Homo sapiens: one gene and its partner. The protein of the gene in region 1 interacts with the protein of each later gene in a pairwise test. Each region holds a gene or a part of one and is shown on either strand. Other genes may lie near its edges.

Evidence for each region.
Region 2: the proteins of METTL21C (region 1) and BCKDK interact in binary tests that used the Homo sapiens proteins (3 or more experiments, as listed by UniProt).

Annotation. Positions count from the first base shown.
Region 1 is NC_000013.11:102,685,200-102,692,090, forward strand, and holds the end of METTL21C (protein-lysine methyltransferase METTL21C), read right to left. Parts: intron 5,766-6,891; coding exon 5,614-5,765; intron 1,859-5,613; coding exon 1,741-1,858; intron 1,227-1,740; coding exon 832-1,226; 3' UTR 548-831; downstream 1-547. UniProt on the Homo sapiens protein: Protein-lysine N-methyltransferase using S-adenosyl-L-methionine as methyl donor. Mono-di and trimethylates 'Lys-943' of AARS1.
Region 2 is NC_000016.10:31,104,357-31,111,385, forward strand, and holds the start of BCKDK (branched-chain alpha-ketoacid dehydrogenase kinase isoform a precursor), read left to right. Parts: upstream 1-4,029; 5' UTR 4,030-4,123; intron 4,124-4,690; 5' UTR 4,691-4,867; coding exon 4,868-5,062; intron 5,063-5,154; coding exon 5,155-5,223; intron 5,224-5,316; coding exon 5,317-5,427; intron 5,428-5,720; coding exon 5,721-5,768; intron 5,769-5,848; coding exon 5,849-5,968; intron 5,969-6,044; coding exon 6,045-6,143; intron 6,144-6,331; coding exon 6,332-6,405; intron 6,406-6,734; coding exon 6,735-6,863; intron 6,864-6,943; coding exon 6,944-7,029. UniProt on the Homo sapiens protein: Serine/threonine-protein kinase component of macronutrients metabolism.

The sequences.
Region 1 (6,891 bases):
TGCTAAACTCTTACAAATTCCAATAATTTCACTGTGGATCGCCTGCAGTTCCAGGGGTTGGTAAACTATGAGCTGTGAACCAAATCTAACTTGAGGCCTGTTTGGGCAGGCTAAGAAGGTTCTTACCTTTTCATAAATGGTTGTAAAAGCAAACAAACAAATATATATATATATATAGCATAGTATGTGACTAGAGAGCCTAAAATACTTACTGTGAAAAAAGCAGACAATACAGAAATTAACTAGAAATTATTAAGATAATTGACACAGAGGGAGACTCTTTGTAAATTATCTTAAGAAGTTCTTAAGACAACATTGTTCTCATTCCGGCAGTTTTATTTTTCACTTTTAATCAACTTTAAGCCTATTAACTGTTTTCTATCATTCAATATCCTCTTTTTGCTGCAGTTAAAAATCTGCAAAAGTAGATTCTTCAAACTAAGATATAGTGACTCTGTCAAGCCCAGTTTCAAAAAGCATGTGACAAGACTATATTGCCAAGTTTAAACATATGCTCTATAGCAGAAATAGGGAAGAAATTCACTTATTACTTTATCCATGTAAGATTTATTAAACATGTAACTTCGTTGGAACCAACAAAGCTACTTTCATGTTTTTATGTTGTTCTTTTTAGATATTTAGATTAACCAGATAATCTTAAATTATCTTAGAAATTAGAAAGTTTCTGCAGTATTGTTACATTTGTTCCAAGTATACAAGTTGTTTCTATGCACTACCTTCTCAATCCTGTGAAAGAAGTCTATTACCAAAGCAATTTCTAACACATTGCTCAAAAGACACAGTAACGTTGTGAAAGGCATTTTGTTGGATTTAGTCCCATTTTAGTATCCCCTTAAAAAGTTTGACTGATGACTCTGGATATTCAGCCAACAGTGTTGTGTCAAAAACTTGCTTGAATTTATCTAAAAATTCATAGTCGGTGCTGAACCTGAATTTGTTTGCCCAAAGCAGCACCGTCCCTGGCTGGGAAAGGTACACCATGGTGGTGAGCAGCTTGTCCAGGAAGTAGTGATGGTAGACCACATCTGAGGCTAGGACGTAATCATAGTAAAAAGCTGACTTGGGAAAGTTTTTGTCCAGGTCTTCCCCCCATACCAGTTCTTTCACTTCAGGCAGATGTGCTGTACATTGTAGTGTGTTTTTTAAAAGATTGTATTGAAGGTTTCCCAGGACATCAGGCAAATCTGTTGCTGTGACTTGAGCTCCTAAGAGAAAAAGAAAACAATGACCTGGAAACATCTGGGCAGTCACAGTGTACATATACCCAGGGAGAAACACAAGAAACAACTGGATTCCTTAGCCTTGGCTCTATTGGTGGGTGGGCTGGACATGTTTGACCTAATGTGGGCTGGCTAATTCTTGTGGGTGGTCCGTCCCGTGCACTGTAAGATGGTGAGCAGCCTCCCTGGCCTCCAACCACCTGATGTCAGTAGCTCCCCCACCTCACCTCACCTGTGGGATTGACAACAGAGATTCAGAGTCATGCCTCTGGACTCAACTTCGTCCCATGGAAACTGGTTGATTGGAGTTTATTAACCTCTCTGAGACTCAATGATCTCTGTAGATAACAGCAGTAATTCCTGCCGCATGACATTTTGGGGAGAGTCACTGAGTGAAGTTAGGGCCAGGCACCTAAACCACAGCCTGTCATAGAGTAAGCACTTGCTATTGTTGTTACAGTAAAGATCTGGATACTAGGTCAGGAATAAACAAACAAACCTAAAATACTGGCCACAATGGAAACAAGGCCTGGTCCGGCACCAATTTCAAGTATTTTTGCATCTTGGAAATTCAATTCCTCGGCATGTTCCTCCAAGTATTGACACAAAGCCATAGCCTAAAAAATAATTATAACTTTTCATGTGGGCATTGGAACATTGGAAACCAGTAGCAACCCTTTCTGGCACCCAAATTTAAATACTAAAAGACATGTTATTACATATGTTCAGTTTATATTCATAAGAACCCAAATGTACACTCAATGCCATATTTAGACCTCTGAAATAAAGAAGTTATAATAAATTGCATCTCAGGAACTGGGGAAAAAGATTTGTTAAATTGCCTCCTAAATCTCCAAAGAATAGGAAGAACAGTAGATCAGCTTAGCTCTTTCAAATCAGGGCAATGTTGGGCTAAAAGAACAGCAACTCCTTCCACTGGTTTAATCATGTTGGTCTCCAACTGCTTTAGGAATGTTGTTTTATGTTAGAATTCTTTCTTGTAAGAGAGTTTTTTAAATTATAGAAGTAATTTTTTAAAATGTCAATTTATAAACTTGAACACCTCTTTCCTGACTCCTTTACCAAAATTCAGGTTGGCGAGCACTTTGCCGTATTGAGCGACGGGTTAGTGACTTTTTTTAAAGTGGTTCTTCTAAGAAACAGACAGTTCAGAAACTGCTTCTCAGACTTCAGTGTGCAAACAGATTCCCTGGATAGCTTGTTAAAGATGCAGATCCTCATTCAGTAGGTCGAGAGTGGGGCTCAAGATCCTGCACGTCTAAACAAGCCCTGACATGATGCTCATCTGCTGGCCCATGTACCCACTTTGAGTAGTAGCAAGCAGATTTTTTTAAATGTTTTATATATCAACAAATATTGTTAGTTTTTTATACAGGAAATCAAACTTCCCTTTCTTCTTTATTCGTTCTCTTCTCCCTCCACCTTCCTCTAACCTTTCCACAAAGAGTAAAGGGTATTTGATTTGCATTGATTGCTGAGGTGTTTACGTGTATGGCAATGAGGCATCAACTAGCAGTGCCCTTGATTGGAGAGATTAGGAAGAGTTATGAGAAGAAATGACAAAAAGTTACTTAAATTTGAGTATAAATAGCCCAGCGTGAGGAACGTGAACACTGAGATTTAAAAAACAATGAACTCTATAATTTACTTATACATTTAGGCCCTAGCTAAAGATATGCCCCCATCTTCCTCTGGACTCTACTTTCTATTTGGGGCCCAGTTTGGAGTGGGGGCAGCCAGGATGATTGGAGACGTGTCACTCTTAGGATTACCAGTGGTAGGTTTGGTAGCCAACCTGACCCTGTACGTCACTCCATTTCATCCTCATCTGTTCATATTGAACTGCCACGGGCAAAGATGAATATGACGCAGTCACCTCTACTGTCTGGGAACTCAGTGGTGGGGCTTAGGGGCCATGTCAGCCAATTACAAACTGAATTCTGGGGAGGTAAGTGCTGTAGAGGAGGCAGACAGCTGGTTGAAGGGAGAGGGGTCACCACAGAGCCGCCGAGGAGTCTGGGCCGACTTCATGGGGCCGGGGAGAAGCCAGCTGGTGTGGAAGGCCAGGGCGGTGGGTAAAATAGCAACATGGTGTGACATAAATAGCACCAACTGCAGCACGCTGCAGGGAGCTCCAGAGCTTAGAAGGGAAGTTTTGAAGAAAGGAGTTCTTTGGTCCTTAAGGAGAGAAGAGAAGTATTTGCTGTGGGGGCTGGGAGGAGGGGGTCAATGTCAGGAAAAGAGTGTCACCTAGAGCCATTCAGAGGGCAGCTCTGAGGAACTTCCTGGAGATGGCTGCAGGGGTCCTTCCTGGTGCCCTGCCCTGTGAGGGGCTGGCCGCAGGGTGTCATGCGGAGACAAAGCTTTTCTCAGGGACAGCTGTGTCTTTTGACATTGCAAACATTCCCCCGCCAGCCCCTTGTCCTGTTAGCAAACTCTGAAGAGATCTTTTCACAGAGTTGCACCTGAAGTCGCACAGGAAAAGGGCGCCTTCCCACTCTAGATGCCCTTCTTGTGCAGCTTTCAGGAAGCAGGTTTCATGAGAGGCTAGTGTTTGGTGCATGAGTGATACCTTGTTCAGAATAAAACAGGGGGACAAATATTCTTTTTTCAATTTCTGATCTTTTTTTTAAAATTATTATTTTTAAAAGGGAGATGGGGTCTCACTATGTTGCCCAGGCTGGTCTCAAACTCCTGAGCTCAAGCGATCCTCTTGCCTCGGCTTCTGAAAGTGCTGGGATTACAGGCATAAGCCACATGCCCGGCCTCTGATCTCTTACTATACCACTTTCTCGCTACACCACTGCTGTCGTCTATTTGCTGAATGTGTTACAATAGGAAGCTGTGAGTAGTTTGGTGATTTTCAAACTCGTTTTTAAGGCAAAGAAAAGCCTTTAGTTGAAGGAAATTATATGCATAAGGTGTAAAAATAGAGCTCCCTGTTTGGGAGTGAGTGAAGGTCGACACCTAAGAGCCTGAAGCCCTTTGGCTACCCTTCTCCCCATCCTGTGCCATCGCCAGATGACCTGAGGGAGCCCCGTGGAACCACTAACCAGGAATACTCAATGTGGGCACCCTGGCCCAGCAGATAGGCATCACCCCGGAATGTGTAAGACCTCCTGAATCAGAATCCGCATTTTAACAAGACTGCAGATTGAGAACTTCTGATCTGGAGCCTTTCTAATCACTGACAACATCCGCAGTGGGAAAAGCAACCACACTGGCTCTGAGGGCCACTGTCTATCTTGGCTCTGCCCTGCACCCCAGTCGGGAGCTTTACCACGCCAGCAGACTGGCCTGCGTTCCCATTTCCTCAGCTGAAAGGTGGAAAGAATATTACATTAATGAGGACAGTTCATGTGAGCTTACGCTAGGACTTCATTTAATCTCACAATCTGAAATTAATTCTCACAATTCTGACAACCACGTCAGGAGCACTGTAGACATTACGACCACCCTAGGTTTTAAATATGGAAATGAAGGCAAACGGAGGTGAGGTGAACATTTGTGACTACCCAGCCCTGAAATGGCAGCTTTTCTGACTAAAAATCCAGAGGACTGCCCCCATTTCAGCGCCATCCTCTCAGGGCTGTGGCAGGGGTGACATGCCACAAAGTCATGCTTCCTAAACATCCCTACCGACACAGCCCCCATGGAAAAGAGATGAATGGCTGGCCGGCCGGGCGTGGTGGTTCACGCTTGTAATCCCAGCACTTTGGGAGGCCGAGGTGGGCAGATCACTTGAGGTCAGGAGTTCAAGACCAGCCTGGCCAATATGGTGAAACCCTATCTCTACTAAAAATACAAAAATTAGCCAGGCATGGTGGCGCGCACCTGTAGTCCCAGCTACTCGGGAGGCTGAGGCAGGAGAATTGCATGAACCCAGGAGGTGGAGGTTGCAGTGAGCCAAGATCGTGTCACTGCACTCCAGCCTGGGTAACAGAGTGAGACTCCATCTCAAAAGAAAAAAAAAAAAAAGAGAGAGATGAATGGCTGAGGGTCGATGGGCGTGGCTCGGAGATGCCCACTGCAAAATCTAAACTCTAAATCCCTGGGTTTATTCTTAACAATTTATACAAGTTTTGCATTCACTTCCTCATATAGCTGAGTTTATTTAATATAAAAATAATGTTTCGAGAAACAGAGCTTGAAGCAAAACCAGTGTTTCTGAAAGAAACACTGTTTTTGCTGATCCCAAGCACTCCACCAACACCCTCCAGGGGGCAAGCAACTGAACCTCAAATTGAGAAGCAGGATATGAAGGAACTTGACAAATTGTCCAAGGCAACTCTGAAGTACGGAATTGTTATCTCCAGAAATCCTGACATCACAAATATGACAGTTCTCTCACCCCTGGCCACACCACCGCTCCGTAACTCTCTATGGATTCCTGGATGACAATCTCCTTTCCTGCAAACCGATAATGCTCCTGAGTGTAGCTGGCGTAATCTGTAGGAACAAATTTCTGGAGGCTATGAAGAGATGGTTCTATCTTGTTGGATTCTGTGAAGCAGAAAAATAAAATGGAGTTCATGATTTGTTCAAATCCAGTGCAAAGACACACTTGGTATAATTGCTAAGATGGCATTAGATTGAATGACCTTTACATAAAGAGAAGGGATGATGCTATCAAGGAGAACGGCTGCAAATTGGCACAAAATTGAATTATATGGGGTGATGGGGACATGAAATTTGGATGTGACAGTTTTATCAGATGACAAAATGCCAAAGAATGCTCTGGGCCTTTTCTTTATTTAGGGGAGGACAGAAGATGTGTGGATCGGTCCCCACCCTAAATTTTGCTGATGGAAAAATGGCGAACTTACCAGCAAAATTGCACGAATGAGCTGTCTGGATACAGAGGAACTAGGTAAACACAAACCTGCCTTTTTTTTTTTTTCTTTTTGAGACAGAGTCTCACTCTGTTGCCCAGGCTAGAGTGCAGTGGTGTAATCTCAGCTCACCGCAACCTCTGCTTCCCGGGTTCAAGTGATTCTCCTGCCTCAGCCTCCTGAGTAACTGGGATTACAGGCGTGCGCCACCACGCCCAGCTAATTTTTGTATTTTTAGTAGACACGGGGTTTCACCATGTTGGTCAGGCTGGTCTCAAACTCCTGACCTCGTGATCCACTCGTCCTGGCCTCCCAAAGTGCTGGGATTACAGGCGTGAGCCACCACGCCCCGCCAGACCTGCCTATTTTTAGGTCTTGAAGTGAAGTAACATTCCCACGTGTTGGCTGGAGCATGTTCCTTCAATCTTTCCTACAATTGCTGTTCAAAAGGTAGAGGCCCAGCCAGCCCCACAGCCCTGGGGGAGGATGTCAGCTGAGCTCTGGCTATTAAGTTACTATTGCTTTAAATACTCCTTTAAACCCATGACCCATCTAGCAGCTCTCAGATGGCATATAAAATGAGAGGAAAAGAGCACCTGATCGGGCTGACATCAAGAGATCACAAGTGTTTGCAGGTTTTCCAGAGTGTTTAGGAATAAAAGAGCAGTGAGTCAAAGTGTGTGGAAGAAGGAGCAGGAGCAGAGGAAAAGGTGTTGGTCCCAGCGGGTGGGAAAGAATTAACAGTGCGGAGAGTAGGGGGGAGGAAGGTCAGTTTTGTTTGCACGAAACCTGCCTTT
Region 2 (7,029 bases), on another chromosome or scaffold:
GGCCGCCCCGTCTGAGAAGTGAGGAAACCCTCTGCCTGGCAACCGCCCCGTCTGAGAAGTGAGGAGCCCCTCCGTCCGGCAGCCACCCCGTCTGGGAAGTGAGGAGCGTCTCCGCCCGGCAGCCACCCCGTCCGGGAGGGAGGTGGGGGGGGTCAGCCCCCCGCCCGGCCAGCCGCCCCATCCGGGAGGTGAGGGGCTCCTCTGCCCGGCCGCCCCTACTGGGAAGTGAGGAGCCCCTCTGCCTGGCCAGTCGCCCCGTCCAGGAGGGAGGTGGGGGGGTCAGCCCCCCGCCCGGCCAGCCGCCCAGTCCGGGAGGTGAGGGGCGCCTCTGCCCGGCCGCCCCTACTGGGAAGTGAGGAGCCCCTCTGCCCGGCCAGCCGCCCCGTCCGGGAGGGGGGAGGGGGGGTCAGCCCCCTGCCCGGCCAGCCGCCCCGTCCGGGAGGGAGGTGGTGGGGGTCAGCCCCCCGCCCGGCCAGCCGCCCCGTCCGGGAGGTGAGGGGTGCCTCTGCCCGGCCGCCCCTACTGGGAAGTGAGGAGCCCCTCTGCCCGGCCAGCCGCCCCGTCCGGGAGGGAGGTGGGGGGGTCAGCCCCCCGCCCGGCCGGCCGCCCCGTCCGGGAGGTGAGGGGCGCCTCTGCCCCGCCGCCCCTACTGGGAAGTGAGGACCCCTCTGCCCAGCCAGCCGCCCCGTCCGGGAGGGAGGTGGGGGGGTCAGCCCCCCGCCCGGCCAGCCGCCCAGTCCGGGAGGGAGGTGGGGGGATCAGCCCCCCGCCCGGCCAGCCGCCCAGTCCGGGAGGGAGGTGGGGGGATCAGCCCCCCGCCTGGCCAGCCGCCCCGTCCGGGAGGTGAGGGGCGCCTCTGCCCGGCCGCCCCTACTGGGAAGTGAGGAGCCCCTCTGCCCGGCCAGCCGCCCCGTCCGGGAGGGAGGTGGGGGGGTCAGCCCCCCGCCCGGCCAGCCGCCCCGTCCGGGAGGGAAGTGGGGGGGGTCAGCCCCCCGCCCGACCAGCCGCCCCGTCCGGGAGGGAGGTGGGGGGATCAGCCCCCCGCCTGGCCAGCCGCCCCGTCCGGGAGGTGAGGGGCGCCTCTGCCCGGCCGCCCCTACTGGGAAGTGAGGAGCCCCTCTGCCCTGCTTGAAGGCAGCATGCTCGTTAAGAGTCATCACCACTCCCTAATCTTAAGTACCCAGGGACACAAACACTGCGGAAGGCCGCAGGGTCCTCTGCCTAGGAAAACCAGAGACCTTTGTTCACTTGTTTATCTGCTGACCTTCCCTCCACTATTGTCCTATGACCCTGCCAAATCCCCCTCTGCGAGAAACACCCAAGAATGATCAATAAAAAATAAAAATAAAAAAAAAAAAATAAAAAAATAAAAAAAAAAAAAAAGAAAGCCGCCTGACCTGTATACAGTATTCTGAAAAGGGGGTCGCGAGGTGCATGTCCAACCTCCGCCGCCGGGGGCAGCAGCGAGTCCAGGCCGAGCCGGGGCCTAGCGAGCGGGGTCAAATGGGGTGAGGCCTGTGCCAGACCTCTCCACCTCGGTGGCAGCCGCAGCCTCCTCCGCCTGCGGCTCCTGTCCACGCCGCGGCCACGTGAGCGCCAGATTCTGGCGCACAGACCACTGCCAGTCCTTTGCTGCTTTGCGCAGCCTGTCCTCCCCGCCAGGAGCACCCTTCCCGCTCCCTTTTACCACGGGCTCCAGCCGTGGCTGCCTTGGGGCTGCCGCCGCCTGGCTGTACTCCAGGACGTTGGGAAAGAACGGGTGGGAATGGTGTGGGTGGGGGTCAAAGAGGAAACCCAGAGATGCAGGGCGCCCCTTTCCCGTGGTCTGCCCCCAATTGCTCAGGCAGGCCAGTCACGGTGAGGCGTCCTCCCTCCAAGTTTATATTTATTATTATTTATTATTTATTTTTTTCACCTTCAAGTTTATTATTTATTATTTATTTATTTATTTTTGAGACGGAGCCTCTCTCTGTCGCCCAGGCTGGAGTGCATTGGCACGATCTTGGCTCACTGCAACCTCCGCCTCCCGGGTTCAAGCGATTCTTCTGCCTCAGCCTCCCGAGTAGCAGGGATTACAGGTGCATGCCACCACATCCGGCTAATTTTTGTATTTTTAGTAAAGACAGAGTTTCACCATATTGGCCAGGCTGGTCTCGAACTCCTGACCTCAGGTCATCTGCCCGCCTTGGCCTCCCAAAGTGCTGGGATTACAAGCATGAGCCACTGCACCTGGCTAACCTCCAAGTTTAAAGACAGCCGCCAGGCCCAGTGGCTCACTCCTGTAACCCCAACAACTCAGGAGGCTGAGGCCAGGAATTTGAGACCAGCCTGGGCAACATAGCGAGACCCCGGCTCTAAGAAAAATAGGCCAGGCACGGTGGGTTACGTCTGTAATCCCAGCACTTTGGGAGGCTGTGGCAAAAGGATTGCCTGAGGGGGAAAAAATCACCCTGGGGGTAGTGGTGCACACTTACAGTCTCGGCTACTTGAGAGGCTGAGGTGGGAGGATCATTTAAGTCGGAGGCTGCAGTGAGCTACTATGGAGCGACTGTATTACAGCTTGAGCAACAGAGCGAGACCCCATCTCCAAATAAATAAATAAAGATAGCCTCCAAAGATGTCACTTGCTTCACTTAGCACTTTTTATTGAACATATTTAGGAAATATATAACCATGGTAAAGAAAATTGCAATTAGTACAAATACACACTACACACATATGCACGTGCACACACTGAAACGTGTCCCTTCCAGCGCCTCCTGCCTGGATAATTTTTTTTTTTTTTGCAACGGAGTTTTGCTCTTGTTGCCCAGGATGGAGAGCAGTGGCGGGATATCGGCTCACTGCAACCTCCTCCTCCCGGGTTCGAGCGATTCTCCTGCCTCAGCCTCGCGAGTAGCTGGGATTACAGGCGCCAGCCACAACACCCGGCTGATTTTTGTATTTTTAGTAGAGACGGGGTTTTGCCAAGTTGGCCAGGCTGGTCTGGAACTCCTGAGATCCGCCCACCTCGTCCTCTCAAAGTGCTGGGATTACAGGCCTGAGCCACTGCGCCTGGCCTAAAGTAATTGTCTTCTTATTGGTTTCTCTGCCTTTGGTCTCACCAAACGCCCCACTCTAAATCACTGCAGACAAGGGGTTCTGTCTAAGGAGGAGAGCCCACCAGTTAAAACCCTTCAGTAGTTCCTAACTACCCTAGGACAAATGCAGACTTATCCTTCGCTCTCTGCTGCCGCCCCTCTCCTTCCCAGATCCCATATGGCTCCAGCCATATCCTCAGACCATCTGGGCTGTTGTCTGTCCTGCCACACACCCTTCCCACCCCGCTCCCTTGCAAGTCCTACTCAGGCTGCACCTACACAGCTGTCTCAGTTTCTATCTGAGGCTCCCGCAGCCTCCTCTGAAAGTCCTCATCACAGCCAATGATACTGAAACTGTTTTCTTATGCAGGGCACGGAAAGATCTATTCAACTCACTGCCCAATCTCCTCTCCTGGTGCAGAAAAGACACCCAGTCAGCGACTTGCATTATCTGCAGGCATGAGTGAATAATAATAATGCCTAACCCTTATATAGTGCTAATTCCACGCCTGGCACTGTTCTAGGCACTCATATAAATTCATGTAATCCACACAACCCCAAAACTGATGATATCTCTTCATCTTACCAAGCACTGAGCAGTTAAATAACTTGCTCCAGATATTAAGGGGTCGAGCTGGGGTTTGAAGCCTGGTTACCCATAAATGAACCAAGAACTGGAAGGAGGACAAGAGCTCCGAGAAGGAGTCAGGTAGGGCGTGATCTGTGCGCTTTACATCTAAGATCTTCCAGCTCCCAGGGAGCCCGTTTCATAGAGCAGGAGATAGAGGCTGGGAGGGACACGGAGAGCCTCGAGAGCCGTGTGGAGGAAGCGGTGCTGTTTGGGGTCCGGGAGCAAGGGCGTGGCCTGGATGCGCGGGCGCCCGGGACGGCACGTCCTCAGACCAAACTACAACTCCCAGGACCCAGCGGGCGCTGCCGCCCACGCGACGTCACGGCGGCGGAGGGCGCAGGCGGCTGGGCGCCTGGCGAGTGGACTGTTCGAGCCCTTCCGCTGGGACCCGGGCCCTGGCTCCGGCCCCGCGGTAAGTGGGGCGACCCCAGCCTACTCAGTCCGCGGAGGCCCCGCGGCGCACGTCCGCAGCCTCCATCACAGCGCGGGCGCGCAGACGGGGCTGGCATCTACCATATGGGGGGCATCCGGGCCGAACCAAGTGACCCGCGTGGGGGGTCCCGCTGGGGACTCCGTGCCGCACCCTCCCAAGCCGGCCCCAGGGGCCCAGGGCTGGTGTCGCACGTTCGCTGGCCGCGCTCCCAGGGCCCGGGTTTGAAGGCGCTGGGCAGGCAGGGGCAGCCCCGCCCCCTGAGAAGGGTACCCGGGACCCCGGGGCGCTGGGGCGAGGTTTTCGGGCTGGAAGGGTCTGAGGGGCTCCTCCCCCGACAGCCCTCCCACCGCCAGTAGAGCCTCGGGTTGGGGAATAGAAGCCCCCGGGAGGCTAGGTCCTTTGGGCGCGGCCTGTGTGCATCTGGGGAGACGGTGGGAGTGGTGGGGAGAGGTCGCCCGGGTCTGGGGAGACCGATGCACAGGTGGAGAGATGGTGCGGGTTCTGTGGATTCGGATCCTTACAACTTCCTCTTCCCCGCCCCGGTAGATGGGAGCTGCTCTCCGCGGGCTGAGCCTGTCAGCATCCTCGACGCACCCTGGTCCCTGAAGTCGGAGAAGAGCCCCTACCCACCCACACCCCCTTGCCCCATTTTGGGTCGCCTGGGTCCTCAGTCCTAGCGGATCCTCAGTCCTAGCGGCCACCGGGTCTGAAAGGAGCAAGACGATGATCCTGGCGTCGGTGCTGAGGAGCGGTCCCGGGGGCGGGCTTCCGCTCCGGCCCCTCCTGGGACCCGCACTCGCGCTCCGGGCCCGCTCGACGTCGGCCACCGACACACACCACGTGGAGATGGCTCGGGAGCGCTCCAAGACCGTCACCTCCTTTTACAACCAGTCGGCCATCGACGCGGCAGCGGAGAAGGTGCGCAAGGGGGCAGCCAGCCCAGGGTCCGGGATGTAGGCGGGAGGGAGAGTGTTGGGGGTTCTCTGCTCAAGGCCTCTCTCCCTCTCTAGCCCTCAGTCCGCCTAACGCCCACCATGATGCTCTACGCTGGCCGCTCTCAGGACGGCAGCCACCTTCTGGTAAGATTCACGCCCTCTATTTTCCTCGTGGATCCTGGAGCTCTCCCAGACACTCAGGCTCCAGCCCCGCCTTCCCTTCTCATTTTCTCCCAGAAAAGTGCTCGGTACCTGCAGCAAGAACTTCCAGTGAGGATTGCTCACCGCATCAAGGGCTTCCGCTGCCTTCCTTTCATCATTGGCTGCAACCCCACCATACTGCACGTGGTAAGGTAGAGAGGACCTTAGGTCAGCGGGCCACCCTGCCCCGGGGGCAAGTGGGGAGTCTGGGGCCCAGAGTGGCAGACGATTGCTTGCCTAAAGGTGTCAGGGCCACACAGGATTCAACCCCAGGCCTTCAGAAGCCAAAGGTGTGTATTCACGGAGCCTGGAAGGGTCGAAGTGGGGGTTTGATCACGTGGTCGACCAGCTGGGTGGTGATCCCCATGGGTAGGTGGGGGTGGCTGTTCTCTGCTCAGTGCCCATGCGGCTTTGTGAATTCCCACACCTCTTCCTTGCAGCATGAGCTATATATCCGTGCCTTCCAGAAGCTGACAGACTTCCCTCCGGTGAGTGCTGGGCCAGAGCAGGGTGAGGGGCTGAGAGGTTGGGCTTGGACCACCCTTCCTCATGACTCTGTGACCTGCAGATCAAGGACCAGGCGGACGAGGCCCAGTACTGCCAGCTGGTGCGACAGCTGCTGGATGACCACAAGGATGTGGTGACCCTCTTGGCAGAGGGCCTACGTGAGAGCCGGAAGCACATAGAGGTTGGGGCAGCAAAGGAGAGGCCGGGCCTGCTGGGGGTGGGAAGGGCACGGGATTCTGAGACCTCACTCTTTACAGGATGAAAAGCTCGTCCGCTACTTCTTGGACAAGACGCTGACTTCGAGGCTTGGAATCCGCATGTTGGCCACGCATCACCTGGCGCTGCATGAGGACAAGGTGGGGCTCTGGGACCTGAGACCCACCTGGGAACATTAAGTGAGACAGAGGAGACTGGGCTGGGGATCCGGGTCAAGGGCCTGGGGGCTGAGGCTGTGGGGCTGGTGCTTTGGGGCAGTTCCGAAGTTGCCAGCATCTTGGGGTGGGGCTAGGGGCGTGGGTAGTCCTGACCTCCTTTCTCCGGCCAGCCTGACTTTGTCGGCATCATCTGTACTCGTCTCTCACCAAAGAAGATTATTGAGAAGTGGGTGGACTTTGCCAGGTGAGGCAAGAATGGCTCAGGGGGTGGGCAGACATCTGGGGCAGGGAAGGCTTGGGTCTGAGCCCTTGCCCGGGGCATGATCTGCGGGGAGCAGGGTTTCTCAACCATGGCACTATTGACATTTCCAGCCAGATAATTCTTTGTCACAGGGGCTGCCCCGTGCACGTTAGGAAGTTCAGCAGCATCCCTGGCGCCAGCAGTACTGCCTAGTTGTGACAAACAAAAATGTCTCTGCACATTGCCATATGTTACTTAGGGGGGCAGAATTGTTTCCAGTTGCAAACCACTGGTGGAGGGGCCCCTGACTGAACCCTCGCTCCTATCCGCAGACGCCTGTGTGAGCACAAGTATGGCAATGCGCCCCGTGTCCGCATCAATGGCCATGTGGCTGCCCGGTTCCCCTTCATCCCTATGCCACTGGACTACATCCTGCCGGAGCTGCTCAAGAATGCCATGAGGTGGGGTGGCTTGATGTGCTGGCTTGGGGGCGGACAGGAACCGGGGTGCTTGTACCTACTGGTCTTTCCCCTCTGCATAGAGCCACAATGGAGAGTCACCTAGACACTCCCTACAATGTCCCAGATGTGGTCATCACCATCGCCAACAATGATGTCGATCTGATCA